Linked DNA regions of Homo sapiens. The protein of the gene in region 1 interacts with the protein of each later gene in a pairwise test. Each region holds a gene or a part of one and is shown in the gene's direction. Other genes may lie near its edges.

Evidence for each region.
Region 2: the proteins of TCHP (region 1) and TRIM54 interact in binary tests that used the Homo sapiens proteins (3 or more experiments, as listed by UniProt).
Region 3: the proteins of TCHP (region 1) and NDOR1 interact in binary tests that used the Homo sapiens proteins (3 or more experiments, as listed by UniProt).
Region 4: the proteins of TCHP (region 1) and KRT24 interact in binary tests that used the Homo sapiens proteins (3 or more experiments, as listed by UniProt).

What each region holds. Positions count from the first base shown.
Region 1 is NC_000012.12:109,902,352-109,910,840, forward strand, and holds part of TCHP (trichoplein keratin filament-binding protein), read left to right. Parts: intron 1-675; coding exon 676-863; intron 864-1,569; exon of another isoform or gene 1,570-1,585; coding exon 1,586-1,796; intron 1,797-2,385; coding exon 2,386-2,442; intron 2,443-2,477; exon of another isoform or gene 2,478-2,663; intron 2,664-4,220; coding exon 4,221-4,289; intron 4,290-5,174; coding exon 5,175-5,348; intron 5,349-6,234; coding exon 6,235-6,347; intron 6,348-6,519; coding exon 6,520-6,586; intron 6,587-8,489. UniProt on the Homo sapiens protein: Tumor suppressor which has the ability to inhibit cell growth and be pro-apoptotic during cell stress. Inhibits cell growth in bladder and prostate cancer cells by a down-regulation of HSPB1 by inhibiting its phosphorylation.
Region 2 is NC_000002.12:27,291,685-27,300,173, forward strand, and holds part of TRIM54 (tripartite motif-containing protein 54), read left to right. Parts: intron 1-6,882; coding exon 6,883-7,055; intron 7,056-7,560; coding exon 7,561-7,732; intron 7,733-7,845; coding exon of another isoform or gene 7,846-7,971; intron 7,972-8,489. UniProt on the Homo sapiens protein: May bind and stabilize microtubules during myotubes formation.
Region 3 is NC_000009.12:137,207,248-137,215,736, forward strand, and holds part of NDOR1 (NADPH-dependent diflavin oxidoreductase 1), read left to right. Parts: intron 1-5,254; coding exon 5,255-5,352; intron 5,353-6,532; coding exon 6,533-6,631; intron 6,632-6,719; coding exon 6,720-6,821; intron 6,822-6,956; coding exon 6,957-7,166; intron 7,167-7,322; coding exon 7,323-7,444; intron 7,445-7,550; coding exon 7,551-7,771; intron 7,772-7,847; coding exon 7,848-7,955; intron 7,956-8,159; coding exon 8,160-8,274; intron 8,275-8,411; coding exon 8,412-8,489. UniProt on the Homo sapiens protein: NADPH-dependent reductase which is a central component of the cytosolic iron-sulfur (Fe-S) protein assembly (CIA) machinery.
Region 4 is NC_000017.11:40,696,939-40,701,689, reverse strand, and holds the end of KRT24 (keratin, type I cytoskeletal 24), read left to right. Parts: intron 1-393; coding exon 394-550; intron 551-1,306; coding exon 1,307-1,468; intron 1,469-1,566; coding exon 1,567-1,692; intron 1,693-2,028; coding exon 2,029-2,246; intron 2,247-3,039; coding exon 3,040-3,152; intron 3,153-3,349; coding exon 3,350-3,453; 3' UTR 3,454-3,699; downstream 3,700-4,751.

The sequences.
Region 1 (8,489 bases):
GAGATGAGTCTCATGATGTGGCTGGTCTCCAACTCCCGGCCTCAAGTGATCCTCCTGCCTCAGCCACCCAAAGTGTTGGGATTACAGGCATGAGCCACTGTGTCTGGCTAAGGTTTATTTGTTTTGTTTTGTTGTGTTTTGAGATGGAGTCTTGCACTGTCGCCTAGGCTGGAGTGCAGTGGGACAATCTTGGTTCACTGCAACCTCCACCTCCTGGGTTCAAGTGACTCTCCTGCCTCAGCCTCCCAAGGAGCTGGGATTACAGACGCCCACCAGCACGCCTGGCTAATTTTTTGTATTTTTAGTGGAGACAGGGGTTTCACTATGTTGGCGCAGCTGGTCTCGAACTCCTGACCTCGTGATCTGCCCACCTTGGCCTCCCAAAGTGCTGGGATTACAGGCGTGAGCCACGGCAAATTTAAAAGGATGATTTGCAGCACTAGTGGCAGATCATTTTAAAAAATGCTGGTGCCTGGGCCCTACTAAGTTTTTTGATTGAATTAGTTTGGAGTGGGGCTCAGACACGGTTTTGTTTGTTTGTTTGTTTTAAAGTTCCACCAGTTGATTTCACTGTGCAGCCAAGGGGTGGTGACCACTCGTTAAAGGGATGAGGCCAAGCTGGTGAGGGTTCCTGGGATTTGCAGTGGCTCACTTTCCTCCCATTCCTGTTCTCAGATGGCGCTCCCGACGCTGCCGTCCTACTGGTGCAGCCAGCAGCGCCTGAATCAGCAGCTAGCACGACAGCGAGAGCAGGAGGCCCGGCTTCGGCAGCAGTGGGAGCAGAACAGCCGTTACTTCAGGATGTCTGACATCTGCAGCTCCAAACAGGCAGAATGGAGCTCTAAAACCTCCTACCAGCGGAGGTAATTGTGCGGTAACTGCCGATTGGATGGAAGTGGGGACCACTTGCTGGTCAGGGGATGAGGCCTTAAGGATTTAGGGAGCGTAGGATTTGCCAGGCAGTATGAATTACCTGCATGGTGATGTTTTTCCAGCTGGAAATGGAAAAAAAGATCATCAGTGCAGCCATACATTGGCATTGAAAAAGATAAAATGATGCAGAAGCATATGATAGAATTTGGAAGCCTGGTTGTAACCCCATATCCCCAGAGACAGCCACAGTTAACAGTCTGGCACATATCCTTCCATGCTGTTTCCCACTGGTATTTGTGCTTAAATATACACACACAAAGCTACTTTTATAGAAATACGTGTAAAAACATGGAGGCCAAAAGCATAGGCTTTGAAGTCAGACCTAGATGGAAATCCTGACCGTGTCTCTTGCTGAATGTATGAGCTTTGGTTTCCTCATCAATCAAGTGGGGCTACAGCAGACCTATGCTGTAGGATTTATGTGATGGATAATATATACATTATTTATACATTTATACATTTTCTTTTTGCAAAAAACAAGATTTTCTCTTACACATACTATTCTGTGACCTGCTGTCTCTGCTTTGGCTGGGGACACATTCCTGTGTCGTCATGACACATCTACCTCAGCCTCTTTTACCGACACAGCAGAGCAGAGCACGTTCCCTGTGGCTGTAGCATGATTGATTCAGGCAGGCCCCCTCTCACCCAGCATGCATGCCTATCAGCGGGAGAAGATGAAGGAGGAGAAGAGGAGGAGTCTGGAGGCCCGACGGGAAAAGCTCAGGCAGCTCATGCAGGAGGAGCAGGACCTGCTGGCCAGAGAACTGGAGGAGCTGAGGCTGAGCATGAACTTGCAGGAAAGAAGAATCCGGGAGCAGCACGGGAAGCTGAAATCAGCCAAAGAAGAGCAGAGGAAACTGGTAACTCCCCAGAGGGCTTCAGGAGGCTGTGGAGCAGGAGTGTTCCCAGCCTGAGTGTGTCGCACATGTAGGGTCATTCCTGGGTGCTCAGGTCTGATGAGATGCCAGTTAACTCCAGAGCCAGCAGGAAAAGAGCTTAGGTCCTTGTGCAGGGACTGGGTTTTGGATCAGTTAGCTGTAGTCTCTTTAGCCCCTTCAATCATTACATCTGAGTGCTTTTCCTTTCTTCCAGTTCTGTGGGTCCACAGAGATCTGGGACTAGTCTGTTTTACCTTCCAAAGTAGTTATGTGAAACAGTGAGCCCTAATCTGTGCTTTTCAGCCTGCTGTATTATTTTGAGACCCCCTAGATAGGACCTCTGTGTAGCATCAGATTTTGGCCCCCTTTTGTCATCATTGCAAGAGTCACTTGGTAGTGCCATGTGGTTCTCAGAGCTGTGCATGTGAAGCATGAGGGTTTGAACAGTGGTTGCAGTGACGGTGTGAAGGGAGGCACTCATAGCCTGAGCTGACTTCCACTGTGTGTCATCCAAAATGTGAATGGATTTGAAAAATGACATCAGGCTTTCCATTTTGTGTTTTCTTGATAGATTGCTGAACAACTTTTGTACGAACACTGGAAAAAGAACAACCCGAAACTTCGAGAGGTGAAAATCAGAGATCTCCATTGATTTATCTAAGTAGATGAAATCATGTTTCCAGACACTTTTTTTTTTGAACACGTATCTTGTACCGGGTTGAAACAGAGGAGGGAACCTTGAGCCACCTGAAAAGAGCGCCAGGCAGAAGATCTGGCACAGGCTGCGCTGAGCGGCTCATTCGGTTGTTGAACAAATGTTGATTGAACCTCCGCTGCCTGGTCTGCCAGGTGCGGGCATGGAGATTAGACATGGTTTCTGCTCATTAGCTTGTGTCCAGCATGGGAGCTCATTACAGGGCAGGATGCAGGGTGCTGGGCCAGCCTGAGAGGATGAGCATGGGCCAGCGCACTCAACTCTGGAGGGGTTGGGGAGGCTTCCCAGAGGAGTTCCTGGGGTGGAAGAGTTTGAAGGGATGTATGTGTGTAGAGGTGAGGAAAGGATGTTCTAGGTTGATGTGACTGTGAGAACCAGGCTTGAGACTCGAGAACAGAGCGAGCCCTGGGAGCTGAAAGTGTCTGGGTGAGGCTAGGATGTCAGATAGTGAGGGAGAACCCCAAGAAATGACGCTGGCGAGGCAGAGGGTGCCAGACATCGGAAGAGCTTGTGTGACCTTCCTCCAAAGGGGCTGGGGGCAGCATACAGGATCCCAGCTGCATTTCAGAGAGACTCCTCTGGTAGCAATGTGCCCGCCGACAGGGAGGGGTGCTGCGACAGCCCAGCCGGGGGTTGGTGAAGGCCTGAACTGGGCTGGCAGGGGAGGGGGTGGCCTCTTGGCTTGGTGGCCTTGTTCAGTGGAGATTTGGCTGCAGGGAGATCATCCCTCACTGTTATTCATTTATTTTCAACTTACAGTTTTTGTATACATTTGGTGCCTTCGTGTTATTCGTAGTTACATTTAGAAATCGCCAGGCACTAAATAATGGAACATCTGGTGCTTTTGTGCAGTTTGCACTAATCTGTGGGAGGACTCCTTAGCCCTGTTGGCTTCGGTGGAATCATCCAGAGCCGTTAAATCAGAAAAGTTTATTCAGAACATTCAAGTTAATTGCCTATGTTCACAGCTGTAAGTTGGGAAAGATTATTTTAAAACTTTTTTATAGAGACAGGGTCTCCCTGTGTTGCTCAGGCTGGTCTCAAACCTGGGCTCAAGTGATCCTCCCACCTCAGCCTCCCGAGTAGCTGAGACTACAGGTGGGCGCCACCATATCCAGCTAATTTTATAAACAGTTTCCCAAACAAAAGATTTGGATTGAATGTTGTGATCCATTTTCTAATCCAGGAGATTGTCTGCGCTCAAATCTCTTACTAACAATGCTAAACTTGTTGCACCTACTGGTGCATCACTTGATACAGGGAGTACGTAGTCCATCTGCTTTGCAGAGGAAACTTCGGGGAGCCAGGCACAGGGTTGAGTCTTCTCACTCAGCTGTCTCCCAGGGCCTGGCATGCAGTACATCAACCCAAGGTGGCCTTTGAAATTGTATTTCCATTTCAGCGTCCAGCCCAACCCTAGGGCTAGTGGGAGGGAAGTCTCTGTTACTTTGTACCAGCTCAAAAGATTGGTGTAGGAGTGCCTGGTCCTTTGGTCTTCTGATTGACATGCATTCACACTATACATGTTGAAGTCACCCCACGCTCTCTACTAGACGCCTGTGCCACTGAGTCCCCATGAAGCGAAGTCATGGCCACGTTCCCGCAGGTGGCACAGAGGGCAGGAGCACACTGTCCCCACAGTGCCCATCTGTCTGGTGAGGAAATTCACATCGTCCCCCTTCCATCCTCAGATGGAGCTGGACCTTCACCAGAAGCATGTCGTAAACTCTTGGGAAATGCAGAAAGAAGAAAAAAAACAGGTGTGGTATGTGGCTCTGGGAATAGCCGCGTATTCTGCTGTGCGAGACTGTTCACGTCTTTGCATTCGTTTACCGTTTTCAGCATCAGTGACTCCAGTTAAGGAGTGTAGTGTACTCTTTTCTTAGTTTACTTGACACATGTGAAAACTGAATGTTTGCTCTTACATATACCAGAATCCTATGTGATAATTCCCAGGGCAGAATAAGGCCAGGTGACCAGGGCTGGGAGGTGGCACATACAGCACGCGTCTTCTTTTTTTCTTTTGGAGGCAGGGTCTTGCTCTGTCACCCAGGCTGGTGTGCAGTGGCGCGACTCACAGCTCACTGCAGCCTCGACTGGCTGGGCTCAAGCAGTCCTCCTAACTCAGCCTCCCGAGTAGCTAGGACCACAGGTACGCACCACTGCGCCCAGCTAATTTTTTAATTTTTGTAGAGATGGGGTCTTGCTCTGTTGCTCAGGCTGGTCTGGCCTCCTGGCCTTAAACGATTCTCCCACCTCGGCCTCCCAAAGTGCTGGGATTACAGGCGTGGGCCACAGGGTCCAGCTAGGACGTGTGTCTTTAAGGGCATTTTTGTCTCTCTTTTGATGAAATCTGCATCGTAAACTCGCAGCCCTGGCTTACTGTAACCCCTTTGGGGTTAAGCTTCCACACCTCTGTGCACTGGTCGCTTTGCTGCCTGGTTCATTTTAGAAAGTGTTTTGTTGAGTGGGGAGGAAACCCAACATTATTGAGTCCCTCCCTGACTTGGCGTCTGAGGGCGTTGTCATTTGGGATTCAGGCAGGAACTGCCTGGGCCCTGTGGCCTGCAGAACGGCGGCAGGAAGCTAGGTTTTTGTTGGCTTACGGTACAGATATTGACCTGTGTTCATTTGGTCCCTTGTAGCAAGAAGCCACCGCAGAGCAAGAGAACAAACGGTATGAAAATGAATATGAAAGGGCCCGAAGGGAGGCGCTAGAAAGGATGAAAGCTGAAGAGGAGAGGAGGCAGCTGGAGGACAAGCTCCAGGCCGAGGCACTGCTGCAACAGATGGAGGAGCTGAAGCTGAAGGAGGTGGAGGTGGGCACAAGCCCCTCTCAGCCGTGACCTCCTCCACAGCTGCTCGTTAGCATGAGATGGGCACTTGAGAGGCTGCCCTAAGAAGAGGCCATAGCAGGGCTGAGATTCTGCAAAGGGCGGCAGCAGCCGGGTTCTCCCTCTCACATGCATCCCCATCTGCCTTGTGCTTTCCCATCCTCCTCGTTTGCGTGCCTGAATTCCAGAACATTAACGACATGGAGCCAGTAGCTGTTCTCTTAGAGGTGGTTAGCGGCCTGCTGTTGGAGAACCTTCTTAGAATCTGGATTTTCCAGTGCACTGAGTAGACACAATTTAATCGGGTGGTCTAGCACCCAGCTCTCCGTGGGGAGCAGGTTTCGGGTCTCGAGGCATAACTGAGGGTTTTTGGTCCAGGGGCTGTTTTTGGAGAACATGGCACAGTTTCCTTGAAAGAGATCTTTCTATTTAGAAGAGGGAGGCCCATGCTCCTGTGACCTCACTTCCCCTTGCCCAGGCCGTGATTTAGCAACTACATTCTTAGTGCCTACTGCTTATTCTAGGTGCTGAGCACTGGGTTGGGAACTAGAGATAGAGCCTGACCAAGGCCCACAGTCCTGACCTCCTGGTGGGGGCTGTGTCAGGTGGAGGACAGTTGTTAAGTTACAGTAAGAGTGGACCAGTACAGGATCCTGTGGGAGTTTAGAGTTCAGGGCTCAGAAAGGCCCTTGCAGGAAATGGCTCAGAGGGGATTGGATGAGTAAGTGAGTGGTGGGAGGGGATCGTGACCACCTGCATGGCCAGGCCTCTGTTGGTGTAGTGTCTGCGAAAAATGGAGATGGAGAATGAAGGAAGATCTGATTCCCACGATCTCAGATCTCAGTCGAGCTTACTCTCATCATCACCACAGGCGACCAAACTAAAGAAGGAGCAGGAGAATCTGTTGAAGCAGCGGTGGGAGCTAGAGAGGCTGGAGGAAGAGCGAAAGCAGATGGAAGCCTTCCGGCAGAAGGCAGAGCTGGGGTGTGTGTCAGAAGGGCCCCCCACTCTTCCCAGGCGGGTGGGCCTCTTGCTTTTTCAGACTTGCATTCGTGTTGCTGAAACCATAAAGGAGACAGCCTGGTCAGCAGTTATCTAACTTCTATTTAATTCTTTCTGAGATACTGAAGGCAGCCCACATTTGATTCTCCTTCAGGCGTTTCTTGAGACATCAGTATAACGCTCAACTCAGCAGACGCACACAGCAGATCCAAGAGGAGCTGGTAAGTCTGAAGAGACAGCCTGACATCTTTCTTAGCCTCTTTTGTAAAAAAGGCCTTCCATTGCTTAGTATATGAGTGCATTCTCGTAAGAATGAAGACAGTGAGGGGTTGGGGGAAAGGGGAGATGTTGGTCAAAGGATACATCCCTCGGTTGGGAGATCTGGGAGTAGTGTCCATCATGTTGATCACAGCTGATGATACCATATTGTATTCTTGAAATTTGCTAAGAGAGCCAATCTTAAGTGTTGTCACCATGAAAACCAACTGTGAGGTGATGGATATGTTAATTAGCTTGACCGTAAGGATCCTTTCCCAGTGTCTGTGTGTATACATAGATGGATAGATACAGGTATCAAAACATCAAATTATTTTTCAGTAACTGTGTTACTTAAAAAGCAGCACAACACAAAGTGAGATCACCCCCTTGACCAGCACCTGCAATCTCTGTCTATCCCCAGAGGTGCCTGTTTAGTTCACATCTTTCTAGATGTATTTACATACAGAGAGGTGGAGGTTTTTGTTTTTGTATTTAAATCTAATTGAGGTTGCATTCCTCAGCATCTTCAATTAACACTAAATCTCTTAATTTTTAAAAAGATCGGCCAGGTGCGGTGGCTCCCGCCTATAATCCCAGCACTTTGAGAGGCCAAGGCAGGCGGATCACCTGAGGTCAGGAGTTTGAGGCCAGCCTGAATGACATGGTGAAACCCCATCTCTACTAAAAATACAAAAACTAGCCGGACATGGCCGGGCGTGGCGGCTCACACCTGTAATCCCAGCACTTTGGGAGGCTGAGGCGGGCGGATCACCTGTGGTCAGGAGTTTGAGACCAGCCTGGCCAATGTGGTATAACCCTGTCTCTACTAAAAAATACAAAAATTAGCCGGGTGTGGTGGCAGGCGCCTTAATCCCAGCTACTTGGGAGGCAGAGACAGAAGAATCATTTGAACCTGGTAGGTGGAGGTTGCAATAAGCTGAGATCAAGCCGTTGCACTCAAGCCTGGGGGACAAGAGCGAGACTTCTCTCAAAACAAGAACAACAACAACAAAAACTAGCCAGGCATGGTGGTGCACACCTGTAATCCCAGATACTCGGGGGGCTGAGACAGGAGAATTGCTTGAACCCAGGAGGTGGAGGTTGCAGTGAGCCGAGATTGCACCACTGCACTCAAGCCTGGGCAACAGAGTGAGACTCTGTCTCAAAAAAACAAAAAAAGGTCATTATGCTTAGATTGAACCTGTTCTTTTCAGATAGCTCCTTTGTATTCCTAAGTACTTTGATGAGCTCCCTTGAAGTGAGGGAGACAGACCTAAGCTGCCCTTCCCATCCCTGCCCACTGCGGTCAGGGCAGGACATGGGGCACAGTGGCATGGTTGGTCCTGGTGTGCAGCTGTTTTTTATGGGGTCTTGCTCTGTTGTCCAGGCTGGATTGCAATGGCGCAATCACGGCTCACTGCAGCCTCAACCTGCCAGGCTCAAGCCATCCTCCCACCTCAGCCTCTCGAGTAGCTGGGACCATAGGTGTACATCACAATGCTTTGTAGAGATGGGGTCTTGCTACATTGCCCAGGCTGGTCTTGAACTCCTAGGCCCAAGTGATCCTCCCACCTCAGCCTCCCAAAGTGCTGGGATTGCATGCATTAGCCCCAGTGCCCAGCCTCCTGCATTATTTTAATGCTTCCATTATGTTGATGTACATAGTAGCTAATTCCCCACCAAGGAGCATTTTGGTTGTTTCTGGTTTTTCCCTCTTACCTAAAAGCTGCAACGAGTGTTTTGCACTTTTGTGTCACTGTGGTCTTTGTTCTTATAAGTGGGATTTTTGCCAAGTTGTATTCCAAAAAGTTGTGCAACCAGGTGTATCCGAGGGCATGTGGTGGTGGCTGGGTCTCCCTTTAGCCA
Region 2 (8,489 bases), on another chromosome or scaffold:
ATGTAAATATTGGCCAGAAAGACTAGCAAAGGAAGTGGGGTTAGGATTTGGCTGGGGGCTAGCATTGCTGAAGCAATCACAGAAGGGAAGGGCTGCCCTGGAGATTAAGATGAAAGCCAGCCAGGCCCGACGGAGATATGGCAGGAGAAATTGGACTTGTGAATCAGGAGGGGACTCTGGGACTGGGGGATGAAAGCTACACGCAAAATACGGGACTGTGGTGTCAGCAGCAGGGAGCAGCACCAGCCCTGAGCAAGACGGTGGGAAAGCAGAGGTGCAGCCTCTCCCCACCGCCCTGCACCCTGAGCTCACACACTCCCGATTTCTCTCTCCCAAGACAGGAACTTTTCAAAGGACTTGGGTTGGACTGCCTGAGTACTGATGCCTCTTAGCCTTCTGGGCTCCAGAATAAATGCAATGACTAACCAATGCGATGAGCTGCTAAAGAAATTGCTTTGGCAGGTGGGAGGGTGTTGAAGAGGTGGTGTTAGTGTGCCTCCCTCAGGTCAAGTCCTGAAGTCAGTTCTGGCTGTGGGGAGTTTGAAGGAAGACATTGGCCAAGATAGCCCAAGTCCTGATTACTTTTTTCTTTCTAAAAATTGTAAGCTTGGCATGGGGTCTCACCCCTGAAATTCCAGCACTTTGGGAGGCTGAGGTAGGAGGATCGCTTGAGGCCAGGAGTTTGACATCAGCCTGGGCAACTAGCAAGACCCTATCTCTGCAGAAACTTTTTTTAAAAATTAGCTGGGCATGGTGGCACACCTGCAGTCCCAGCCACTTGGGAGGCTGAGGTGAGAGGATCCCTCGATCCCAGGAAGTTGAGACGACAGAGAGAGAGATCTTGTCTCAAAAAATTTTTTTTAATTTTTGTAAAATGCACATAACATGAAATGTACCACCTTAACCTTTTAAATGTACAGTTCAATGGCATTACATACATTTACATTGTTGTGAAACTGTCACCACTATCCATCCCCAGAACTTTATCACCACCCCAAACTGAAACCCCACACCCCTTAAACAATACCTCCCTACTCCCCCTCCTTCCAGCAACTGGCAACCACCATCCATCCTATGCCAGGTACCTCATTTAAGAGGAATCATACAATATTTGTCCTTTTGTGTCTGGCTTATTTTGCTTAGCATAATGTCTTCAAGGTTTATCCATGTTACAGACTGCAGACCTGGTTACTTTTAGCTGATAATTTCTATTGCAATCTATGTGACTTTTATCAGCATCATCCATTCTCCTGTCAAATGTGGATTTTTTTTCTGTGTTGATATTTACTTGATTTCTTTCCTTAATTCTGCCAGCTCTCTTTTCTTCTCCAGTTTTGATCACTTATATCTCTTTGTTTTTGTTATTTCTTTTAAAATGGTATATCGAAATGGTATTGATTCTTGGAGTATCTGTCCCTTGTTTGTCAAGCTTTCTTTTTTCTTTTCTTTTTGTATTATCTGGTTTGCATCTTTTGTTGGATTCTGTCTGCTTATCACTCCCCTTTTATCAGGGTACTTTTATCTGGAGCTGAAGGTGAATTCCTGACTCAACCCACTGTGTTTATCTTGGCTTTCTTTCACTGTCCTCTTAAATATAAGCTGCCTGGTTGGATGTTGTCATTGGTTTTGCAATCTCTCTTTAGTTCTGTGCCTTCTTTGGTGAATAGAGGGGTATGACCTGAATTAATAGGTAGTTGAGTGTCTCAATTTGGTTGTGTTGTCTTGGAGTATTTTTCACGCAGAATCCGGTGATTTATCTACCATAGAGGCCCACACAGGTCCATGGGAGGAGGTCTCCCCTGAGATTTGAGCTATTTCCTCTCCATTTCACAGACAAACAGGTCATTCTGGTTGAAAGCAGGGCCCTTATAGAGCTCCATGGCACACAGGGTTTTAATTTGATGAGTCATCTTTTGTTGATCTTTGCTTAAATAGCTTTAGTCCACAGTTGCATAGTTGATTTTCAGGCTGTAGTTTCTTTCCTCTGTGAAGGTTTGAGGTTTGTTCCTTCATTACCCTTTTACTTTTTTTACTTAAAAAACAAAAACAAAAAACGGCCAGGTGAGGTGGCTCACACCTGTAATCCCAGCACTTTGGGAGGCCGAGGTGGGTGGATCACCTGAGGTCAGGAGTTCAAGACCAGCCTGGCCAACATGGGGAAACCCCATCTCTACTAAAAATGCAAAAAATTAGCCGGGCATGGTGGCACGTGCCTGTACTCCCAGCTACTCAGGAGGCTGAGGCAGGAGAATCGCTTGAACCCGGGAGGTGGAGGTGGCAGTGAGCCAAGATCCTGCCACTGCACTCCAGCCCGACGACAGAGTGAGACTCTGTCTCAAAAACAACAACAACAATAATAACAACAACAACAACAGTAAAAGAAACTGCCTCTGCCTGAGACTCAGAGAAATGAATATTAGCTCTAAGGGTTTTTTTGTTTTGTTTTTTGTTTGTTTTGTTTTTGAGACAGGTCTCCCTCTGTCACCCATGCTGTAGTGCAGTGGCATGATCACAGCTCACTGCAGCCTTGACTTCCTGGGCTCAAGTGATCCTCCCACCTCAGCCTCCCAAATACCTGGGACTAAAGGCATGAGCCATCTTGCTTTTTCTTCTTTTTGTAGAGACGTGGTTTCACTGTACTGCCCAGGCTGGTCTTGAACTCCTGCACTCAAGCCATCCTGCTGCCTTGACCTCCCAAAGTGTTGGGATTACAGTCATGAGCCACCGTGCACAGCCTGGCCTAAGTTTTATTGTGTCTGACAATGGAACACAATGATTATTAGGACAGGCTCTGGAGTCAGAGTGCCTAAGTTCCAGTACTGGCTTTGCCACCTATTAGCTCATGACCGTGTACAATTTATTTAATTTCACTGAGACACAATTTCCTCATCCTTGAAATGGGGCTAAGACTATTACCTACTTCAGGGCCAGGCATGGTGGCTCACGCCTGTAATCCCAGCACTTTGGGAGGCTGAGGTGGGCGGATCATGAGGTCAGGAGATTGAGACCATCTGGCCAACATGGTGAAACCCTGTCTCTACTAAAATACAAAAAAATTAGCCGGACATAGTGGCAGGCGCCTGTAGTCCCAGCTGCTTGGGAGGCTGAGGCAGGGGAATCGCTTGAACCCAGGAGATGGAGGTTGCAGTGAGCTGAGATTGCACCACTGCACTCCGGCCTGGGCGACAGAGCAAGACTCCATCTCAAAAAAAAAAAAAAAAAAAAAGAGTATTACCTACTTCAGGGTTGATATGAGGATTAAGTGAATTAATACAAATGAAAGACTTAGAGCAAATCCTGGCTCAGTAGATGTTAGCCATTATTATTCTATTTCTTGTAGACTAAGTTAGGAGTGATTGTTCACCTCCTCGACCATCTTTTTTTGTTTGTTTGTTTTTTGAGACAGAGTCCTGCTCTGTCGCCCAGGTTGGAGTGCAATGGCGCAATCTCGGCTCATTGCAACCTCGGCCTCCTGGGTTCGACTCCAGGGTTTGAGTGATTCTTGTGCCTCAGCCTCCCGAGTAGCTGGGATCCTCAACCATCTTTACAAGAAGTTCTTGAGGAATAAATACAACAATGTCTGGAAAACCCATGACACGATGCTTGACACATGATAAGCCCTCAAAACATATTTTTTTTGAGACGGAGTTTCACTCTTGTCTCCCAGGCTGGAGTGCAATGGTATGATCTTGGCTCACTGCAGCCTCCACCTCCCGGGTTCAAGCAATTCTCTTGCCTCAGCCTCCCAAAGTATCTGGGATAACAGGCGCCTGCCACCGCACCCAGCTAATTTTTGTATTTTTAGTAGAGACGGGATTTCACCGTGTTGGCCAGGCTGGTCTCGAACTCTTGACCTCATGATCCACCCACCTCGGCCTCCCAAAGTGCTGGGATTACGGGCATGAGCCAGCGCGCCTGGTCTCAAAACATTTGTTGAATGTTAAGTAATGAGTATCCCTGCCTTTGTGGCTCAGGAAGAGGAAGGGTGCAGTGAGGGATGGAGGTTGGGGAGAGCGGCTGCCCAAGAGTTTATCTTTGCTGTGGGATATAGGTCCCCCTTCCTCCCATTCAAATATCTCTATATGCTTGCCATCAGCAAATCAAAGATAAGAAAGACAGGAGACTGCAGCCTTAGAGTTCTCCCAACACCTCTTTCCTCACTTGGGTTCTAAATATTGAAAAGTAATTGTATTAAGCAAACAAAAGGCAAGTGATTATACACTTTAACGCATTCCCTAAACTAAACTCAACAATATTCATACATTTCTAGCTACTGAGAAGGCAGATGTACAAACATGCCTTGAATTATCTCAAACTAATCTGCCCCAGGTTTATGATGGGCTTAAAGGTTAACATGATTCTCAAGAAATCCCAAGAAAGATGTGATATTTATGGCACACACCAGTTACTCTCCCCAAGATAAGCTGCTCACTTCACAGTGGGTCCACGTTTCCTGCCTTGCCTACAGCCCTTGCTACCAAAGGATCAAACAAGACCCTTGACTTGGCTGCACTCTGTGCATGATGGGGTGTTGCTGCACACACGCAAGGGGCCTTCCAAACTGTCTTCTGGTTTGTGTATGGTGTAAGGGTTTGGAGAAGTTCATGCATCCCAGTTGTAGGAAGTGCATCTCACTATGCTAGCTCATAGGTGACCACTGTCTCCATTACTCTCTAGGAATGCATAATCTTCCAGCCAGTTGGGATTAGGTTCTGTTCTAAGTGGCAGAAACCCCAGAATAACAGTGGCTTAAAGAGGGTAAAAATTTGCTTTATTCTCAAGTGAAAGTATGGGTGGACAGTGCAGGACTGCCTCATCAGAGACCTCCTTTCATCTCGTTACCATTCTCAACATGTGGCTGCCACTTCATGGCTCAAGACGGCTGCTTCAACTTGAGCCATCCCGTCTTCTTTCCAGCCAGCAGGCAGGAGAAAAGGGGAGGAGCAGGGCATGCCCCTCCCATGAAAGACGGTTTGTGCAATTTCCTACAAATTACACAAAACATTTGCATCTACATCCCAGAGCACAGCCAATTGGCCACACCCAGCTGGAAGGGAGGCTTAGATTCATGGGTTTTTTGGTTTGTTTTTTTGAGATGGAGTTTCCCTCTGTTGCCCAGGCTGGAGTGCAGTGGTACTATCTCAGCTCACTGCAGCCTCTGTCTCCTGGTTTCAAGCAATTCTCCTGCCTCAGCCTCCCAAGTGGCTGGGACTACAGGTGTGCACCACCGTGCCCAGCTAATTTTTTTATTTTTAGTAGAGATGAGTTCTTGCTATGTTGCCCAGGCTGGTCTCAAACTCCTGAGCTCAAGTGATCTGCCCACCTCGGCCTCCCAAAGTGCTGGGATTACAGGCATGAGCCACCACACCCAGCCCTTTATACCATGTGTCTTGTTAAAACTCAGGGCACTTATTATTAAAGAAGAAAAGGTGGTGAACGTCAGGGTACAATAAGCAGTGTCTGCCAGTCTTTCATCTCTGCATCTCCCCACACATAGACTCTTTTCTCTGTAGACCAGCCTTCTCTGTTCAGTTTCTGACCCCTTACACTTTCCAGGGTGGCCGTGATGTCAGCTCTTAGCCCAATTCCACAGGTCTATTCAATTCCTAAGCAGAACATGGCGTAGCCAGCTAAGCCCCTGAGTCTCAAGTCCAAATTCTTAGGAGAGAATATTTGATTGGTTCTGCTTGGGTCAGGTGATCACCTCCTTAGCTCTGAATCAATCATCTGTGGCAGGGATCTCCCTTCTAGGATAGGATGGAGCAACTACTCTAGGCAAGAGATGTAAGCCGGAGGAAGTGATGGGTGTCTGTTAAGTCCTCCTTCTGAGCCTACCCCTATCACAACACCCATCCTGCTGGATGCAGTTGTCAGGTGCTTGTCCTTAGGACAGGATGCATTTTCTTTGTATCTTTAACTCAGAGTCCAGCAACTACCTGGCACACTATAAATGAATAATTTTATCCTCAGCTTTACAGAGGTTGAATACCTGCCTAAATTTATATACTTAAGAGGTTGGGCATGGTGGCTTACGCCTATAATCCCAGCAATTTGGGAGGCCGAGGTGGGAGGGTCACTTGAGGTCAGGAGTTTAAGACCAGCCTGGGCAACATAGTGATACTTCATCTCTACTAAAAATAAAAAAAATTATCTGGGCATGGTGGCACACACCTCTAGTCCCAGCTACTCAGAAGACTGAGATGGGAGGATTGCTTGAGCCCAGGAGGTCGAGGCTGCGGTGAGCTGTGATCCCACTACTGCACTCCAGCCTGGGCATCAGAGAAAGAACCTGTCTCAAAAAAAAAAAAAAAAAAAAAGGCCGGGGGGAGGGCATCAGAGATAGCACAAGAACCCAGGACTCCTGACTTCCAGTTCCTGGAGCAATTTTCTAGAATTACCTGGCTAGTTACAGTTTGTGAACCCCATTGTTGAGCACTTGTATCTGCTTGTACCCCTGCCCAGGACTGCAGAGAATCTCCTCCAGTTGTGGCCCAAGAGGGCCCCAGACTGGAAGACATTGGTCGCACCACTCAGAGTTCATTTCCTGCCTCAGCCTTATTGCCAAGACCAATGTCTCCCCATGGCTCCAAGCTGGACCCCTTTGGAGAGATCCCATCCTGACTATGCCTTGACCAAAGCTGAGTTCTGGATGCAGGGGCACTCTAGGAGGTGGGCTGAATAATGAGGCAAAGGTGGGAAGCAGGGTCTCCATGGCCGTCCACCGTGCGCTGCTCTCAGAGGTGGATCCAGCCACAGAGAAGAGCTGACATCTTCCCCTCCATCAAGTTCCTACTCCCTAGCCCCCAAGCCCTTTCCCCCTGCCTCCTCCGAGTCCCTTCATGCCTCCCCGTGCCTGTTCTCTCAAGCCATCTGTCCCTGCAGGCCTCGAATCCTCTATGGCAGTCCCGGGGCTCCACCACTGTGTCTTCAGGAGGCCGTTTCCGCTGCCCATCGTGCAGGCATGAGGTTGTCCTGGACAGACACGGTGTCTACGGCCTGCAGCGAAACCTGCTAGTGGAGAACATTATCGACATTTACAAGCAGGAGTCATCCAGGTGAGCCACCAGAGTCTCTTGCCTCTCTCATGACAGGGCTTGGGACACAGCCAAGGAACCCATCAGAGCCAAAAGGGAGAGATTGAAACGGTCAACCTGCCTGTTCTGTCTAGAGACCATAGGACTGGATCCGGAGAGGGACTTGCCTCAGGCCTCCCAGAGAGGGCAGTCTCTGATTCCCTAGCCAGTACTTCACTCCTACCCTCTCCTCCTGGGAGAGGCTGGCAGTCCACCAGCAAGATCCTCGCTAACCCTCCAAGACTTCCTGTCCTGTGGGACTTCCCTGCCCCCTTGTAATACAGACTGTTCTCGGATCCAGGCCTCCTCTATCTCTTAGCTCCTTCTGTTCCCCAAATTCAGAGCTCTGTGGAAGTACTCACCAGTTCAGCCACAGCACTAGCTGCAGGGGCGGAGAAGGTGGTGGCAGTTGGTGGAGGCTGAAGAGAAGGTATTCCTAGGACCCTTCATGCTTAAGGTCCACCTCCCCCTGCCCACTCCTCTCTAGGCCGCTGCACTCCAAGGCTGAGCAGCACCTCATGTGCGAGGAGCATGAAGAAGAGAAGATCAATATTTACTGCCTGAGCTGTGAGGTGCCCACCTGCTCTCTCTGCAAGGTCTTCGGTGCCCACAAGGACTGTGAGGTGGCCCCACTGCCCACCATTTACAAACGCCAGAAGGTATCAAACAGGGGAGGGAGTAGATATGTGAGAGATGGGGGCTTAGGACAGGGTCTCAGTGTCAGCCTCTTACTCCACTTATCTTTTGTTTACTTATTTCTTTATTTATTTAGAAACAGGATCTCACTCTGTTGCCCAGGCTGGAGTGCAGTGGCACAAACACAACTTACTGCAGCCTTGATCTCCCGAGCTCAAGTGATCCTCCCATCTTAGCCTCGCAGAACACTAAGATTATAGATGTGAGCCACCGCACTCAGCCCTATCTATCTATCTATCTATCTATCTATCTATCTATCTATCATATTTTGAGATGGAGTCTCGCTCTGTCGCCCAGGCTGGAGTGCAGTGGTGCAGTCTTGGCTCACAGCAACCTCAGCCTCCCGGGTTCAAGCTGTTCTTATGCCTCAGCCTTCCAAGTACCTGGGATTACAGGCATGTGCCACCACACCCAGCTTTTTTGTTTTTTGGTTTTTTTTTGACTCCTGGCCTCATGTGATCCGTCCACCTTGGCCTCCCAGAGTGCTGGAATTACAGGTGTGAGCCACTGCGCCCAGCTCCATTTATTTATTTTTTAAGAGATGTGGGGATCTCTGTCGCGCAGGCTGGAATGCACTGGTATGATTGTGATTCACTGCAGCAGCCTTGAACTCCTGGGCTCAAGTGATCCCTACCACCTCAATCTCCCAAGTAGCTGGAACTACAGGCATGTGCCACCATGACCAGCTAATTATTTTATTTTATTTATTTATTTATTTGT
Region 3 (8,489 bases), on another chromosome or scaffold:
GATAGAAGTGGACACATTGCAGTGGTGTCAGGAAGAGAGAGTCCCCGGGACATGGAACGGACCCAATAGGTCAAGCAGAATCGAGACAGGGATGTGGGCTCTGGAACCAAGATGGATGGTGGTTCCATCCACAGAAATCAGAGAACACGGTGGGAGTAGGGGGCTGTGCAGGAAGGGAACCTGGAGACATTGAAGTGGAGAAGTGCAGTAGGACTAGCGCTCCAAGGAAGATCCTGGGGCGGAGATAGGTGTTGAGGTAGCCACAATACAGAAGTGTGAGAAGAGGAAGCTCCTCTCTCCCCACAGGACAGGCTGCCCAGAACGTTAGAGCCCAGGAGGGCAGGAGAGTGACCAAGCAGCTAGAAGAGAGGGTGCAGCACCCCAAGGAGAGGACTGGGGGAGTGAGTGTTCCAGGAAGGGCTCTGGCATGTAAAGCTGCACAGAAGTCAAATCAGATAAAGCCTGAGAGGGATCCATGGGATTTCTTGGCAAAGGGATTGTTGGTGATACCAGGAAGAGCAGCTTCAGTGGCTCATGGGGAGAGAAGCCAGATTACAGGAGATCAGCAACTGAGAGAGTGAGTGGAGAGCATCTTTTAAGAATGTCTTGAGTGCGGGCCGGCTGCGGTGGCTCACGCCTGTAATCTCAGCACTTTGGGAGGCCGAGGCGGGCGAATCACGAGGTCAGGAGTTCGAGACCAGCCTGGCCAACATGGTGAAACCCGTCTCTACTAAAATTACAACAATTAGCTGGGCACGGCGCAGTGGTGCGTGCCTGTAATCCCAGCTACTCGGGAGGCTGAGGCAGGAGAATCACTTAGACCAGGGAGTCGGAAGTTGCAGTGAGCTGAGATTGCGCCACTGCACTCCAGACTGGTGACAGAGCTAGACTCTGTCAAAAAAAAAAAAAAAAAGAAAAAGAGCCGGGCACTGTGGCTCACACCTGTAATCCTAGCACTTTGGGAGGCCGAGGCAGGCAGATCACGAGGTCAGGAGATCGAGACCATCCTGGCTAACACGGTGTGAAACCTCGTCTCTACTAAAAATACAAAAAACTAGCCGGATGTGGTGGCGGGCACCTGTAGTCCCAGCTACTCGGGAGGCTGAGGCAGGAGAATGGCGTGAACCCGGGAGGCGGAACTTGCAGTGAGCCGAGATCGCGCCACTGCACTCCAGCCTGGGCGACAGAGCGAGACTCCGTCTCAAAAACAAAAAAAAGACAAAAAACAAAACAAACAAACAAAAAACCACATCTGGCTGTGAAAAGGCTAAAGAGTTAAAAAGAAGGAGTTTTTTATGAGAGACGTTTGCCGGGCACAGTGGCTCATGCCTGTAATCCCAGCAATTTGGGAGGCCGAGGTGGGAGGATCGCTTGAGCCCAGGAGTTCAAGACCAGACTGGGCAGCATCATGAGACAGAAAATTCAAAGTGAACTGGTGCAGTGGCTCATGCCTGTGATCACAGTTACTCCAGAGGCTGAGGCGGGAGGAGCTCTTGAACTTGGGAGGTTAAAGCTGCAGTGAGCTGTGATCACACCACTACACTCCAGCCTGGGCGACAGAGCAAGACCCTGTCTCAAAAAAAAAAAGACGGGAGAAACTTGACATGTTTTTTTTGTTGTTGTTTGTTGTTGTTGTTGTTGGTTTGTTTTGAGACGGAGTCTCGCTCTGTCGCCCAGGCTGGAGTACAGTGGCGTTGATCCCAGCTCACTGCAAGCACTGCCTCCCGGGTTCGCGCCATTCTCCCGCCTCAGCCTCCCAAGTAGATGGGACTACAGGCGCCGCCACCACGCCCAGCTAATTTTTTGTATTTTTTTAGTAGAGATCGGGTTTCACCGTGTTAGCCAGGATGATCTCAATCTCCTGACCTCGTGATCCACCTGCCTCAGCCTCCCAAAGTGGTGGGATTACAGGCGTGAGCCACCACACCCGGCCAAAACTTGGCATGTTTAATTGCTGGCAGGGGAGAGACAGGAGAAAGAGGCTGAAGACTGAGTAGGTATGGCAGGGGATGTGCAGCGGCTTGGGGGAGAGCTGAACATAGGTCGAGGGGTCTCAGATAGAGTGGGATGGAAGAGAAGGGGTTTCAGAGTGGAGCACAGGCACGGGAGGGGAATGGTGGGATAGGGAAGCCCCAGAGCATGGGAGAGGAGAGGGACTGAGGCTGGGCTGGGCATTCAGTCAGCCAGTGGCAGGAAGCTGGTGCTAATGCCGGGATTCAGGTCAACGAGGAAACGAAGAGTCCCAAGTGTGGGCACCCACAGAGAAGACCAGGAGTTGGAGGGGGCAGCTAATGCCCACAGCGGGAACTGGGAGCTCCTTGAAGAGGCTGTGGACCCAGGGCCCATGGCCTCAGAGGCAGGGGCGAGTCTTAGTGGCTATCCATAGCTAAACCAGAGGACCCTGGCTCTCCATCCACAGCGAAACAGGAAGACCCTGGCTCCTTGCTGAGGATGCTGTAGGTGAGGCAGGTGCCCCCAGCAGCAGACAGGAGAAAACAGAGGAACCACAGTGAAAGGCCAAGTGACCAGGTCCCTGCCTGTCTGGTGAAGAAACCCATGGGGCGCTGGGCGCGCTGGCCCAAGCCTGTAATCCCAACACTTTGGGAGGCCGAGGCGGGTGGATCACCTGAGGTCAGGAGTTTGAGACCAGCCTGGCCAACATGACGAAACCCCATCTCTACTAAAAATACAAAAAATTAGCTGGGTGTATTGGTGCATGCCTGTAATCTCAGCTACTCAGGAGGCTGAGGCAGGAGAATCACTTGAACCCAGGAAGTGGAGGTTGCAGTGAGCCGAGATCACACCACTGCACTCCAGCCTGGGTGAAAACATGCACCAGAAAGAACCACACCCCACCCGAGGAAAGACCCGCATAACAGGCAGAGACGGGCACAGGCTGAAGCAGCCAAGGATGTTACCCCCACGGGGCAAAGCTGGAGACTCAGGAACAGGAAACAGTTTTTTCTCTTTCTCTTTTTCTTTTTCTTTCTGGAGACAGAGCTCTTGCTCTGTTGCCCAGGCTGGAGTGCAGTGGCAGCCATCAACGGCTCACTGCCCCCTGACCTTCCAGACTCAGGTGATCCTCCCACCTCAGCCTCCTGGGTAGCAGGGACTGCAGGTGCGCACCACCACATGCAACTAATTTTTTTTTTTTTTTGTATTTTTTGTAGAGATGGGGTCTCAAGCTTCTGGGCTCAAGCAGTCTGCCTGCCTCATCCTCCCAAAGTGCTAGGTTTGCAGGTGTGAGCCACCACACCTGGCCAGAAATAGTTCTTTAAATGGACATGAAAAAACTTTAAAAGATTAGAAGACGCTGGGCACAGTGGCTCAAGCCTGGAATCCCAGCGCTTTGAGAAGCCAAGGTGTGGGAGGATCGCTTGAGCCCAGGAGTTTGAGACCAGCCTGGGCAACATGACGAAACCCAGTCTCTACAAACAAAATAATAATAAATTAGCTGGGCGTGGTGACACACACCTGTAATCCCCACTACTTGGGAGGCTGAGGTTGGAGGATCGCTTGAGCCCAGAAGGTCAAGGCTGCAGTGAGCTGTGATTTCAAGACTGCATTCCAGCTTGGATGACAGAATGAGACCCTGTCTCAACAACAAAAAAGGCCGGGCACGACGGCTCACGCCTGTAATACCAACACTTTGGGAGGCCGAGGTGGGTGGGTCACTTGAGGTTAGGAGTTCGAGACCAGCTTGGCCAACATGGTGAAACCCTGTCTCTACTAAAAATACAAAAATTAGCCGGGCATGGTGGCACGCACCTGTAATCCCAGCTACTTGGGAGGCTGAGGCAGGAGAATCACTTGAACCTGGGAGGCGGAGGTTGCGGTGAGCTGAGGTCGCACCATTGCACTCCAGCCTGGGCTACAGAGTGAGACTCCATCTCAAAAAAAGATGAGAAATCCTTCTAGAAAGTATGACAAAAAGCAAGATAGAAAATGGAAGGAAGCAGATACCAAAATTCGAAGATAATTCCAGTGGCCTCAGAATGAGAAGACAATGGTGGAGAGGAAGTTATCCAGGAAAGTAATGATGTCTAGAGCGGGGTCTGCGGCCAGAGAGCCCCATGCCCAGGAAGGGCCCTGCTGAGAATGAAAGGGCTACCCCCGGGGCATGTCACTGTGGGTTTAGCCTCTGGGGACAGAGTGCCCTACACACCCCAAGGGCAGCAAGTGGGGCCCTGGCTTTTCAGTGGTGGTGCCAAGCCCAGGACAGACCCAGCCGCATGCCAGTCGAGTGAGGGAAAAGTCACAAGAATGTTCTCTCCAGAACCCTTTTCTCGGGAAGGAGGAAGTTCACCAAACGGAGCAGGGAAGAGAGTCTTTTGGGATTCAGGAAGCAAGGGTGTCTCAACAGCAGGGCGCTAGGGAGGGTCTCGGGGGCAAGAGGCTGGGTACATTTGCTCGCATAGCGTGGCCCAGAGAGGCAGCTGATGAGGCAGTGAGGTCCCGGGAGGCCAGGGGTGGTCCAGGGCCAGGGTCAGAGCTGTGGGCTGACAAGGCCAGGGCCTCCCTGTCTGCTAGCCTCCATGCTTGGCCACGGGAAGGGGAGGTGGGTGGGCGGCGAAGACCACGCACACAGGCCACCTGGGATCCAGGTAGGGAGGGGGCAGTAGGTTCCTTGGGGGGGCCTCTGATCAAGCTGGGAGGACACCGTGGAAGGCACGGTGTGGAACCAGAGGATCTGGACCCTGTTGGCTCGAGGTCCTGCAGCCACGGAAGGAGGGGGATGTGTCTCAGCGACACTGGAACCTCAGAGGGCCGAGTGTGAGAGCCCTTGGGATGGACCTCAGAGGTCTGAGTATAGGAGCCTCTGGGACAGACCAACTCAGGGAGTGGAGGCCCACGCTCTGGCTGGGAAATGACAGGTGGAGGTGAGGGACCCCTGGGGCGGTGGACAGTTTGGAGACCAAGTGCAGAGCTGCTCCTGGCAGCTCAGAGCCTGGGGCAGAGGAGGGTGATGTCCCAGGAAGGAAGCTCCACGCAGGCCTGTAGAGCACAGCAGGGTCTGGCTCCTGTGGGCAGGGTGGGACCTGGTCTCCCTAGACGCTGGACCAGCCCTGCCTCCTCCCGGTGCCCATCATCCTGCAGGCTGGACCTGGGCCCTGCCTTTTGGTCAGATAGGTCCAGTTGTATTCTGCCCCCATCCTACCCACCTGCCTGTTCCCCTGAGACCCTCCCCTCACCCCCTGCTGTGGGGCTAGCCTAGAGGTCGAGGACTCTGACTCAGAGTTTCCTCCGGCTGTAGAACTTCTGGAGGTTTATATTCCGGAAGAACCTGCCCTCCACTGCCCTCTGTCAGATGGACTTTGCCGTCCTGGGCCTCGGGGACTCCTCATACGCCAAGTGAGTAGGGGATGGGACAGTGGGCGGACGGAACAGTTCTGGGGGTCGAGCAACAGGTGTGCTGGCAGAGGACCGAGACCAGCTTCCAGGGTCGGCCCCTGCGCGCCTCAGGGCCCTCGCAGTGGTACTGGCTTCTCCACAACGCTCCCTGGTGGGCACCCCAGGCTTCACGCTGCGGGGAGGGCACAGAGGGGAGCAGGCAGGGTGGCAAAGGGCTGGGCTCCAGCCACGCTGACGTCACACAGGCCTACCTGGCGCCGGTCCCCACTTTTACAAAAAGGCGTGCTGTGAAGTGTTGACGACTTTGAGCCTGGAGGAGGACCCCGTATGCTCCTGCCACCCCAGAGGCCACCTCTGCCTTTTCTCCTGGGCATTTTCACAGTGCTCCTCTGCACCCTAAGCAAGGAGTGGCATGTTCAGTGTGCAAATGGCATCTTTAGACCCCACAACGGTGAAAACCCCGACTGTCCACGTAGGGCCCAGGTCCGCTGAGCACCGAGCATCAAAAGCCGTTTGCATAGCCAGGTGTCAGTCATTTCAGATGAAAAAGAACGGGAAGATCGGAGACAGCTCCCCCCGGTTCTGCCGGGAGGTTTTGTTCCGTGCGTGACGTAGGTCCGTGCATGACGTTGTTTCCTGCGTGACGTTGTTCTGTGTGGGACACAGTGTTCGTTCAAGAGAGGGAGGGAGGCCGCTGCCGACAGCGTTCCCAGGGAGGAGCGTGACCCAGAGCCAGTCATGCCTCGGAACCAGAGTGAGAAGAGAAACTGACCCCCGGGAAGATGCCTGGCTCTCTCCCCAGCACAGAGTTTCTCAGCTGAGGAGTGACCCACATCTTGGCTGGGGGCCTGGAGGCCTCAGCTGCCTCAAGTCCCTGCCCAGGGATGAGGGCCCATCAGTGGGACGAGGCCGCCTGCTCCCACCCACACAGGCTCATTCTCTGCGAGCAGAGGACCTGCTGCTTGGCACCCTGGCAGCTGCCCTGGTCTCGGCAGCCCCTGGCGTGTGGAGGCCCTGCCCCCTCCTAGGGTGCGGCCAGCGTGGAGTGTGTTTTCCACCCGAGGGAGGCCCTCCCCAGGCTCCACTCTTCGCCCGGGCTCCACTCTCCCGGGTTCCACTCTGCCTGGGCACCACTCTCCGCCCGGGCTCCAGCCCAGGACCAGCCTCACTGTCTCCACAGGTTCAACTTCGTGGCCAAGAAGCTGCACCGACGGCTACTGCAGCTTGGGGGCAGCGCCCTCCTGCCCGTGTGCCTGGGCGATGACCAGCATGAGCTGGGGTGAGTCTGCGGGCGTGGTACCCGCCTCCACAGTCTGGTCTGGCCACACGCAGGGTCCGCTCAGGCCAGCGCACGTGCTCCCTCCCAGGCCCGACGCTGCTGTGGACCCCTGGCTGCGAGACTTGTGGGACAGGGTTCTGGGGCTGTACCCGCCGCCTCCGGGCCTCACTGAGATCCCTCCCGGAGTCCCGTGAGTGTGGGCCCCGGGTCACCCACAGGCGCAGCAGACCCAACCTGGCCTGGGGACCTCGCCCTGGGTCCCTCCCGTGTGGGTGGGCGGCCCCTGGGGAGTGGGTCCTGGTCTGACCAGCGTGCCCTCCCACAGCCTGCCCTCCAAGTTCACCCTGCTGTTCCTCCAAGAGGCACCCAGCACGGGCTCTGAGGGGCAGCGGGTAGCTCACCCCGGCTCTCAGGAGCCCCCGTCAGAGTCGAAGCCCTTCCTAGCACCCATGATCTCCAACCAGAGAGTCACCGGCCCCTCCCACTTCCAGGACGTTCGGCTGATTGAGTTTGACATCTTGGGCTCTGGCATCAGGTGGGGACTGCTGGGGACCGAGGAGGGCAAGGTGAGGTGGGCCGTGGGTCTGGGGTTCGGAGGAGGCTGGGCCGGGCTGCAGGGGATGACTTCTATCCGGGGCCCCGACATCCTCCCTGCGGCGTCCCCACAGCCCTGGTGGCTTCTTCCACACAGCTTTGCTGCTGGTGATGTGGTGCTGATTCAGCCCTCCAACTCGGCTGCCCATGTCCAGCGGTTCTGCCAGGTGCTGGGCCTGGACCCTGACCAGCTCTTCATGCTGCAGCCGCGGGAGCCAGGTGAGCCCAGCCTCGGCCACCCTGACTCTCTGCCCTCTCCCGTGCCCTGGGCCCCCACCCCAAGGGCTCCGCCGCAGCCCACGGAGGCCTCCCACTCACCCTGCAGATGTCTCCTCCCCCACGAGGCTGCCCCAGCCCTGCTCCATGCGGCACCTCGTGTCCCACTACCTGGACATCGCCAGCGTGCCTCGCCGCTCCTTCTTCGAACTCCTGGCCTGTCTATCCCTCCATGAGCTGGAGCGGGAGAAGCTGCTGGAGTTCAGTTCTGCCCAAGGCCAGGAGGAGCTCTTTGAATACTGCAACCGGCCCCGCAGGACCATCCTGGAGGTGAGATGGGAGGGCGGCAGGCCCAGCCCCTGAGCTACAGCCACGCTGCAGCCACCCTGAGACTCTCTTTGCCTAGGTGCTCTGTGACTTCCCGCACACAGCTGCCGCCATCCCTCCCGACTACCTGTTGGACCTCATCCCCGTTATCCGGCCGAGGGCCTTCTCCATCGCCTCCTCGCTGCTGGTGAGGGGCCTGGTGGTTGGAGCCCAGGACCGGCCCTGGGAAAGCTGGGACCGGGGCTGTGGGGTTTTGTAAGCAGGGGCTGCCCTCTGACCAGGTGACGTTCCCCCAGTCGGACTGCCTCTGCGGGAGGTAGGTGGGGCCCACGGCCCAGGCACAGGTGAGGGCAGCCTTGTTCCACCACCCCCACCCCGCCGTCCTCCCCAGACTCACCCCTCACGGCTGCAGATCCTCGTGGCTGTAGTGCAGTTCCAGACTCGCCTCAAGGAGCCCCGCCGGGGCCTCTGCTCCTCCTGGCTGGCATCCCTGGACCCTGGGCAAGGTGACCCCTGCTCCCAGGGTGGGGGCCGTGGGCCCATATCCCCTTCTCTCCCATGCTCATGCAAATGCTGGGCTAGGGCCCCAGCAGACTCAGCACAGGTCTTTGATCCTCTTCATGCCACCTCCTTCCTGCAATAGGACCTGTCCGGGTGCCCCTCTGGGTGCGGCCTGGGAGTCTGGCCTTCCCAGAGACACCAGACACACCTGTGATCATGG
Region 4 (4,751 bases), on another chromosome or scaffold:
AAGGGTAAACTTTAGACCATTAGACAAATCTCCACTGATGCTGGGGCAGGTAGATCCTCTCTGCTGAGCACCTAAGCCAGTAGCTACACACCGGCCGCTTCTGCTCCTTTCATCAGCCTACAACAGCTGCAAAAGAAAAAAGAAAAAGAAAAAAGAAAGAGGCAAATTTAGAATGAGAATTTTATTATTAAAAATGTTAGACATGATTAGAATTAACATTACATTGGTATTTTTCTTTACAAGGGAAAATTTCCCAAGAGAAAACTTAATAACCTTTATTTATTAAAATGCCCACAAGTGAGAACTTTTTCAATATGTAAGAATGGAAGGTACCCTTTGAAACACGGCCAGGTGAGCTCACAGTATTTTTTGCCTTACTGCTGCCCCTTCCAGGTATGAGAACGAGCTGTGTCTCCGGCAGAGCGTGGAGGCTGACATCAATGGCCTGCGGAAAGTCCTGGATGACCTGACTATGACCCGCTCTGACCTGGAGATGCAGATTGAGAGTTTCACCGAGGAGCTAGCCTACCTGAGGAAGAACCACGAGGAGGTAGGAACATGTTCTACATAAACGAATAACTCTAGCTAACATATTTCTCCCCATATGCATTCTATACAAATAAAATTGGCTGGGTGCAGTGGCTCATGCCTTTAGTCTCAGCTACTCTGGAGGCCGAGGCAGGGGGATCCCTTGAACCCAGGAGTTGGAGGCCACAGTGAGCTATGATCATGCCACTGGATTCCAGCCTGAGCAACAGAGAGATACTGTGTCTCTAAAAAAGTAAAATAGGCCTGGCACGGTGGCTTATGCCTGTAATCTCAGCACTCTGGGAGGCCAAGGCAGGCAGATCATGAGATCAGGATTTCGAGACCAGCCTGACCAACATGGTGAAACCCCCTCTCTACTAAAAATACAAAAATAAACAGGGCATGATGGCGCACACCTGTTGCACCTGTAATCCCAGCTACTCAGGAGGCTGAGGCAGGAGAATCACTTGAACTGGGGAGGCGGAGTTTGCAGTGAGCCGAGATCAAGCCACTGCACTCCAGCCTGGGTGACAGAGTGAGACTCCATCTCAAAAAGAAAAAAAAAGAAAAAAAGGTAAAATAAACTCATTTTTATCTAAGTGAATTTCCCACATACTATGACCAGGAAACAAAAGTAATCATGAGTAAATTATACCTAGATTTGATTTTTTTTTTTTCCTTTCAGTGTCCTACTTTCAAATTGTTGTTGTCTAGGCACATTTTCGGAAGTCATCACTTTTCTGTTTGCATCACGATAGTCTTTTTTCCTTCATGCTAGGAAATGAAGAATATGCAAGGAAGCTCTGGAGGGGAGGTGACCGTAGAAATGAATGCTGCGCCAGGGACCGACCTGACCAAATTACTGAATGACATGAGGGCGCAGTACGAGGAGCTGGCTGAGCAAAACCGCCGAGAGGCTGAGGAGCGGTTCAACAAGCAGGTAGATCCTCTCTGCTGAGCACCTAAGCCAGTAGCCACACACAAGCCGCTTCTGCTCCTTTCATCAGCCTACAACAGCTGCATTATGTTTGTATTTAGAGCGCATCACTACAAGCACAAATCTCCACTGATGCTGGGGCAGCCACTTCTGCCAAGAATGAGATAACAGAACTAAAACGTACCCTGCAAGCCCTGGAAATTGAGCTTCAGTCCCAACTGGCCATGGTATGTGCAAATAGCTTTTCACATTTTCCAACAGGGAGTTAAGCAAATGCAGTTTTCTTTCTTTGCCAAGAGGTTCACTAGGCACATAAAAAAGGCAGTGTTAAGGAGAACTGCATTATGATTATAGAAAGCATTAAAAGTTAAAGATAATGTACTCTATTTTGCATAAAAGATTTAGTTTAAAAAGAAGTGCCAACCAAAATTAAAGAAGCAATGATATAACAATATAGGTTATATGGCGAAGGTGCACTTCTAGTGCCACATAAAATTGCATTTTTAAAAAATCATCCAATGATTTATTTTCATCATGAATTTTTTATTTGCTTTTTCTCTTAGAAAAGCTCCCTGGAGGGAACCCTGGCTGACACAGAAGCTGGCTACGTGGCTCAGCTGTCAGAAATTCAAACGCAGATCAGTGCCCTGGAGGAGGAGATCTGCCAGATCTGGGGTGAGACTAAATGCCAGAACGCAGAGTACAAGCAATTGCTGGACATCAAGACACGCCTGGAGGTGGAGATCGAGACCTACCGCCGCCTGCTCGATGGAGAGGGAGGGTAAACCAAAGTCATGAACAAACTAAAATGCATACCTTAGTGAATTTATTTTATAAAACCAAAATGGGACTCAGGGCTTAGACTTGTATATATAGAGAGTAATAAAGTAACAGACACAGGCTGCGTGCAGTGGCTCAGGCCTGTAATCCCAGCACTTTGGGAGGCTGAGGTGGGAGAATCACGTGAGCCCAGGAGTTCAAGACCAGCTTGAGCAACATAGCAAAACCCCTTCCTCTTCAAAAAATAATTTTTAAAAAATTAGCTGGAGGCTGGGCACAGTGGCTCATGCCTGTAATCCCGGCACTTTGGGAGGCCAAGGCAGGCAGATCACGTGAGGTCAGGAGTTCGAGACCAGCCTGGCCAACATGGTGAAATCCTGTCTCTACTAAAAATACAAAAATTAGCCAGGCGTGGTGGCACACACCTGTAGTCCCAGCTACTCAGGGGACTGAGGCGGGAAGATCACTTGAGCTCAGGAGGCTGAGGCTGCAGTGAGCTGTAATCATGCCACTATACTCCAGCCTGGGTGATAGAACGAGACCTTGTCTCAAAAAAAAAAAAAAAAAAATTAGCTGGGCATGGTGGTGCACACCTATAATCCCAGATACTGGGGAGGCTGAGACAGGAGGATCACTTGAGCCCAGGAGTGCAAGGTTGAACAAAAAAGCAGCAGACACAATCCAATTAAAACACATAAACACATCCAAAACTTCATCATGAAGAATCCCCGGGGCGGAGGCTTTCTCCTGCCTTTGCAAACTGCAAAGGAAAACATAATTCTTTTTTTCTCCAGTGGTTCTAGTTTTGCAGAATTTGGTGGTAGAAACTCAGGATCTGTAAACATGGGATCCAGGGATCTGGTATCTGGTGACTCAAGATCTGGAAGCTGTTCTGGTCAAGGACGAGGTAGACTTTTTTTAATATTGATAATAGTTCTGTAATTTAAAAGTGAAGACATACTTTGCTTGTCATACTAAAAGAGTCCGCTATTTTTTACATAATCTTACCCAGACAGAACACGTTGAATGCATGTGATTGAATTTCTCTTGCTCTGTGTTTCTGTGAGAGTTTCCAGACTGACATTGCAATCCCATGATTTTCAGATTCAAGCAAGACTAGAGTGACTAAGACTATCGTAGAGGAGTTGGTGGATGGCAAGGTTGTCTCGTCTCAAGTCAGCAGTATTTCTGAGGTGAAAGTTAAATAAGGAACTTCCAGATCAACAAAAGTGTCTTTCAAAGAAAAAAAAATCAAGAAGGACACAAGCGAAGAAATGGCATCAATCTAGGCATCTTTCTGGATAATTTCAGGAAAAGCTTCAGTCCAGAAATGGATGACTAGCCAACTTTTCTGCATCTTCTTATTTCCTCATTAGAATGCTCTTGAAATAGCTGAATTAACAACTTTGCTTTAATTGTTTCTATGCTTCAATAAATTTACTTTTGCAAGTTAATTATTACTTATTTTTTTAAAAAGTATTTTACCTAGGAAGGAAGCTATCAAGTATGATCTAGCTGCATGACTATATTACTAATGTCAGTTCATTCTTTATATCTTACTGTTGTAACTGAGCGAGTTATAGAGAAATGACACACTCTGAGACTAATTCAGGAGTCCTTTTATTGCCGGCGAACAAGACGGCTAGAGCTCAAAATTCTCTCGGCCCCGAAGAAGGGGCTAGATTTCTTTTTATATCGTGGTCTAAATAGGGGAGAGGGAGTTTAGCTGAAGCAATTTTTACAGAAGCAGAACAGGCAAACCAATTAAGAAAGATTAATTGGTTACAGAAACAGTTACAGAAAAGTAAACAGTTCCAGGTGCAGGGGCTCAAACTATCACAAAGAGATAATGCAGGGGCTTTGGGTGCCATCCCCCAAGCGCGTCCTCAGGAACTGCTGATTTAGCTTGCCTCGATATCTCATCAGTAAGCGCATTCCTGGATGTGCTCGGAGTCAGCTTGCACTACTTATGCCTTTAAGGGAGGGGAGCTGCAAGTGAAGAAACAAAAATGGAGTCTGTCCGGCTCTCTCAGCTAAGAGAGACAATCAGGTTAAAACGAGGTAGGGTATCACATTACCTTCTTTATACAATTCAGATTATAGTCATTTTTTTAATGTGGGCATTTTTAATGGCATCACATAAGAACTCAGTGGCATGATAGCTGAAATTAGACTACCGTGTCAACGGCTTAGCCCACAAAGAAGGATGTGATTATTTTAATAATCAACTTATAATTAATGTCTAGTTTATATATGTCCATCACTGAACTCGATATTTTATAAGATAAAAAAGAAACTCAAAATCTCCCTCCTACTTCAAAAAGCTCACATTTCAGCAGAGAAGAAGAGCTAAAACACAAAGAAGACAGCAAGCAATAAAAAGCTGTTAATAGTAAAGACTTGATTTCACAATCTGCATCAGAAGTGACATAGGAATCAGACATGTGTGTTTACAGGACATTTAGGACAGGGGCCAAAAAAGAGTCTTGGGAAATAAGATTGGCTA